Regions from separate parts of the Homo sapiens genome. Here region 2 is linked to region 1. A link means that fine-mapping ties the variant in region 1 to the expression of a gene that starts in the linked region. Tissue or cell type: monocytes after LPS. Region 1 holds a variant in brackets; the other region holds the start of a gene. All regions are shown on one strand. Distances are from middle to middle.

Evidence for each region. PIP is the estimated chance that this variant, and not a neighbour inherited with it, causes the effect.
Region 2: NDUFS3 starts here. The variant in region 1 is fine-mapped to the expression of NDUFS3 in monocytes after LPS (Quach 2016, PIP 0.95).

What each region holds. Positions count from the first base shown.
Region 1 is chr11:47,402,060-47,404,812 of GRCh38, forward strand. All of the region lies in intron 2 of SLC39A13-AS1 (SLC39A13 antisense RNA 1), which reads right to left. Among named protein-coding and RNA genes, the nearest start is that of MIR4487, 2.5 kb to the left of the region's middle. The variant A/G (reference allele first, on the strand shown) is at 1,353.
Region 2 is chr11:47,577,606-47,580,215 of GRCh38, forward strand. It overlaps NDUFS3 (NADH:ubiquinone oxidoreductase core subunit S3), which reads left to right and starts at 1,469. Exons shown (of 7, transcript NM_004551.3): 1 at 1,469-1,553; 2 at 1,664-1,729. The coding sequence starts at 1,487. KBTBD4 (kelch repeat and BTB domain containing 4) reads right to left here and starts at 1,365. Exons shown (of 4, transcript NM_018095.6): 1 at 1,328-1,365; 2 at 1-423. The coding sequence starts at 1,346. RefSeq lists enhancers at 924-1,583, 1,276-1,515, 1,584-2,242.

The DNA.
Region 1 (2,753 bases):
TTAGCCGAGCATGGTGGTTTGTGCCTGTGGTCCCAGCTACTTGGGAGGCTGAAGTGGGAGGATCATTTGAGCCCAGAAGGCCGAGGTTGTGGTCAGCGGAGATTGTGCTATACTCCAGCATGGGCAACGGAGTGAGACTCTGTCTCAAAAAAAAAAAAAAAAAAAAAAAAAAAAAAATATATATATATATATATATATATATATATCCCCACAAATATAAAATATCTAGAAGTAAACTTGGTAATAATTATGCAGAACCTATAGGAAAACAATTGTTAAATTCACTAAATAATGTAAAACCTTAAAATAGTTTTTTTTTTAAAAAAGCCAATTCAAATGGAATATTGTCTAGGTATACATACATATGTCAGAAAAAGCTTTATCAAAAAAATAAAAGCAAGAGTCAGGTGTGGTGGTGTGTGCCTGTAGTCCTAGCTTCTTGGGAGACTGGGGCCAGAGGACCATGTGAGCCCGGAAGCTTGAGACCAGCCTGGGCAACAATTTTAAAAAAATTTTAAAATTAAAATTAAAATCTCTAATTTTAAAAAAAGAAAGGCCAGGCGTGGTGGCTCACACCTGTAATCCCAGCACTTTGGGAGGCCGAGACCAGCGAATCACTTGAGGTCAGGAGTTCAAGACCAGCCTGGCCAACATGGTGAAACCCTGTTTCTACTAAAAACACAAAAATTAGCTGGGCATGGTGGGCGCCTATAGTCCCAGCTTCTCGGGAGGCTGAGGCAGGAGAATCGCTTGAACCTGGGAGGCAGGGGTTGTAGTGAGCTGAGATTGCGCCACTGCTCTGCAGCCTGGGTGACAGAGCTAGAATCTGTCTCAAAAAGAAAAAAAGAAAGAAAGAAAAATAAAAAGCAAAGGACTGATCATCACAAAATTCAGGTTTCACTGAAGGAGGAGACAGGGAGATGGGATAGGGGAAGGGTAACAAGTAAGGAAAGATGTAAATCAACACAAAAATTAAACAAGAGCCTTGCAGGGACCAAAAGGGCAGTGCAGAACGCACAAGGATTTCACCCCAATTTGTGCACCTGAGACAAGAGAAGGGGAATGGGAGACATGAAATTGATTTGGATAAACTTTTATTCAGAGTATGGGCAAAAGCTTGCTTTTTCTAGCAGCCCACACCTGGCAGGGAAAGAGGCCTGTGTATCCAGGGGACAAGGCTAAGGGATCCAAAGACACACCGACATGCAGAGCCTTCAGAATGGACAGGTCAGGAAGGCTGCAGGGAGGAGGTGGCCTTGTCAACAGGCTAGGTTTCAATCGACTGAGATGGCGAAAGGGGAAGGACATCCCAGGCCTGCCGAGAGTGGGGTGGGGGTGACAGAACTTGCCAC[A/G]GTGGAGAGGCTGGACAGAGAGTAGTGGGACTCAGCTGTTCATGGTGGAGCTGCTGGTGGCAAGGGAAGAGGGGAGAGGCCCTGTGGGGTCACTGGAGCATTGCCCAGCCAGGGCTTAGGATTCAGTGGAGAAAATACCCCAGGAACTCATGAGGGAGCTAAGGCTACCCTGGAAAGAAGGATTGAGAAAGGATTGGGGTCAGGGGTTTCAGAGGGGCAGGGCTCCTTTGGAGAAGCTGAACCTGTGGCCCTGGGGGAGCTGCTGTGCCTCTTTTTAGCTGTGACCCTGCGTAATGTGATTACCATCCTGAGCCCCATATGCCTTTCAATAAGAGACTGCTATCTTCCTGCTGACCCCCACGGGAGGAAGCCCTGTGACAAGGATAAGGCCAGATATCTCACTAGAGACCACACTCTGGAAGTATCCATCCCCAGCCCAAGTCTCTAGCCCTCGATTGCCAGAGTGGAGGGAAGGATGTCAAAGCATTGGCCATTGCCAGGCCAGCCAGTCTTGCAGGGGCCAGAGACAGGAACAAGGGGTTAAAGTCAGATTCTGGGCATTGCAGTGAAGTCAGAGAAATAGATCTGTGGCTCCCTGATCCCAGACACCTCTCAGCCACTTAGAGCCACGCAGTACCCAGGCCCATCCAGCTCTGCTGAAGTTTGTCCAGTGCTTCAACCCAGGAAAACCCTATGGCCTCCAAACCAACTGATAAATATGTCAGAAAACACTCATTTGTGGCTGGGTGCAGTGGCTCACGCCTGTAATCCCAACACTTTGGGAGGCCGAGGAGGGCAGATCACCTGAGGTCAAGAGTTCAAAACCAGCCTGGCCAACATGTTGAAACCCCGTCTCTACCAAAAATACAAAAATTAGCCGGGCATGGTGGTGGGTGCCTGTAGTCGGGGGGCTGAGGCATAAGAATCACGTGAACCTGGGAGGCGGAGGTTACAGTGAGCTGAGATCACACCATTGCACTCCAGCCTAGGTGACAGAGCAAGACTCCAACTCAAAAACAAAAAAACAGGCCGGGCCTGGTGGCTTACGTCTGTAGTCCCAGCACTTTGGGAGGCTGAGGCGGGCGGATCACAAGGTCAGGAGTTCAAGACCAGCCTGGCCAACATAGTGAAACCCCGTCTCTACTAAAAATAAAAAAATTAGCCGGGAGTGGTGGCGGGAGCTTGTAATCCCAGCTACTCAGGAGGCTGAGGCAGGAGAATGGCTTGAACCCGGGAGGTGGAGGCTGCAGTGAGACAAGATCGTGCCACTGCACTCCAGACTGGTGACAGAGCAAGACTCCGTCTCAAACAACAACAACAAAACAAAAAACAAAAAACAAAACAGGCCGGGAGCGGTGGCTCACACTTGTAATCCCAGCACTTTGGGAGGCGGAGGCGGGC
Region 2 (2,610 bases), 180 kb after region 1:
CAAAGAGAGATGTCAGCTGATACATGTCTGACACCTCATAAATTTCCTGCAACTCCTCAGCTCGAAGTTTCACAGTCCCATGGTAGATATAATCAACCAGGAGCTGGAAAACAGACTCGCTGACATCCTGCAGCACAATCACCCGGTTGTGGGCCTCCTTCAGGTTGGAAGTGAACATGGATCGGAAGAAGCAGCTCTGAGCTGAGAGGACCAGCCGATGGAGCTGAAACTCCCGGCCTTCCACCGAAATGGTGACATCAGCAAAGAGCTCCTCCTCTAGACACAGTTTCATGATGCCTTGAGCCACACGGCCTGAATGTGACCGATCTTTGAAAGTGTAGTTCACAAAGTAGTTCTCATCCATGGATGCTCCAGGCTCCTCTGGTGATTCCATGCTAGCCAACTTCTCTCTCTGCCAGCTGTCTGCAAAGCAACACCATCTTGAGTAACCTGAGGAATTCACAGCCATAGTCTGTGAATCCAACTGTCCAACTCAGGGAGGGAAAAGGAAGAAGTGAGAGCAAAGTGGGTCCAGATTGGCCTTAGTCCTGGCCCTGTCCATGATGTCCCTGACGCTATCCTTTAACCAAATCTGGGTTCGTTATCCCCAGTGGCGCCCCTCCGCTAATGATATAAATAAAAGTTCCAACTCTGGGTGTTTTCCTGAGAAAACACGGAATAATTCCTTTCCATAATGTTAACAAAAGACTTGGGATTTAGGTCAATATATGAAAGCAAAGGGCTGGGAGAGGCCTGTGATCGTAAAAGCCTTACTAACCAAATAACTGGGGCATAAAACTAGTGAAGCTCAGGGGCAGTAGAATCAGACAAAAAGGACCCCTGGCCCCGGCCTAGTGGCCAGGTCCTCTCCTTCCCAGCGCATGGAGTTAAGACGCTCCATATGAAGCCTAGCCTGGGATATCCGTGGGTCTTACATTTGCTCTCTTCTGAGCTGCTTCCCCCACACTTCCCCGCTCGCTCGAAAGACTCCCTATGGCTGCGTCCCAGAACTTGAGTCCATCCGCCCCCAGGCCGGGGCACTGGGAGGCCCATCACCCTGTGCAATGTCCCCGCTCCACCTTGAGTCGTCTTGGAAACGGTCGCCAGGGAAACCGTTCTTCCCGCTCAGGCCCGCCCGCCCTCGTCAAAAGCTTGGCTCAGAGAGCGGGGGAGGGGTGTGTAGCGTAGAACCCAAAACGCCCGCCCCCTCCCCTCCTCTCACCCGCCTGGTTCTTCAGCGTCCTCGCCTTCTCTCTAGGCTCTGCCACAAGGAGCTAGGACCACGCTCACCTCACGATTTCCCTACCTGCCTGTCTCGCTTTCTCACCTGCGTTCCCTCCTTTCATCCCGGAGCCCGGAACCTCCGCTTCCGGCTCCACGTCCGCCCGGAAGAAGATCTGCTGCACACTTCCGTTTCCGGTCCGTGCCCTTGGGGCTCCGTGTCCTGCTGTCTTTCCGTCCGCTGCCTAGTCTGCATCTGAGTAACATGGCGGCGGCGGCGGTAGCCAGGCTGTGGTGGCGCGGGATCTTGGGGGCCTCGGCGCTGACCAGGGGTGAGCACGGGCAGCCAGCTGAGACCGGGGTCAGGCGCAGCGGCGTGCCCAGTGCAGAGAGCTCCTCAGGGCTCATCCCGCGCGTCTGTGCCTTTTATCTCCCTGTGCAGGGACTGGGCGACCCTCCGTTCTGTTGCTGCCGGTGAGGCGGGAGAGCGCCGGGGCCGACACGCGCCGTGAGTATGTGCGGGCAGCGCTCTTCTCTGAACTATCGGCGGGGCCCCTTAGATGCCTGTCCTTGCCCTAGGATGCCCTTCCCTACGTCCTCCTGGCAAATCTTGGAGATCTGACTTGCAGTGGTCTTCACCCTGCATGCAGAATCGAGCCCTCCCTGTGCCCTTAGGCCTGTTATGGCCCTGATTGTTCCTTGTCCATTTCAATCATCCCCTTTTTGTCTGATTAAACTGTCAGCTCTTTGAAAGCAAGCAATATAACCTTTAGGCCTCAGAGCCCTGTAATAATAGTACCTAGCGTTAATTGAGTGCTTAATGTGTGCCTGGAACCTCGCTAAGCGTTTTAGTGAATGATCTTATTTCGTCCTCACAACAGCCTTATGGGGTAGATAGCATCTTACTCTTCTTACTATAGATCAGGAAACAGTCCAAAGAATTAAACTGCCCAGGGTCAAAGACCTAGTGAATGACAAAGTAGGCCTGCCTGCTGCCAGAGGCAGAAACACCTAACCATTATTCTGTAGCTTGTGATGTGTGATTGCTCAGTGGTTTAGGGTTGCATGAATGAGTATGTACATATTATGTTACAGTCAAGATACACGGACTGGGAGTTAGGAGACCTGGCATTTCTCCTTTCCTGGGTTTTCTCATTGACACACACACACACACACACACACACACACACACACACACACACACCTGGGCCTCAGTTTTCTCATTGACACACACACACACACACACTTTTAAGGAGAGAGAGAGTCTGTGAGGGATCTTCAAGCCCTGAAGTTCTTAGCTTGAGAACCTGGTATAAACTTGCGTGCTAAGGAGCTACAGAGAGGCAAAAGTTCAGTTCCCATCCTCAAACAGCTCTTAGTCTGACAGGA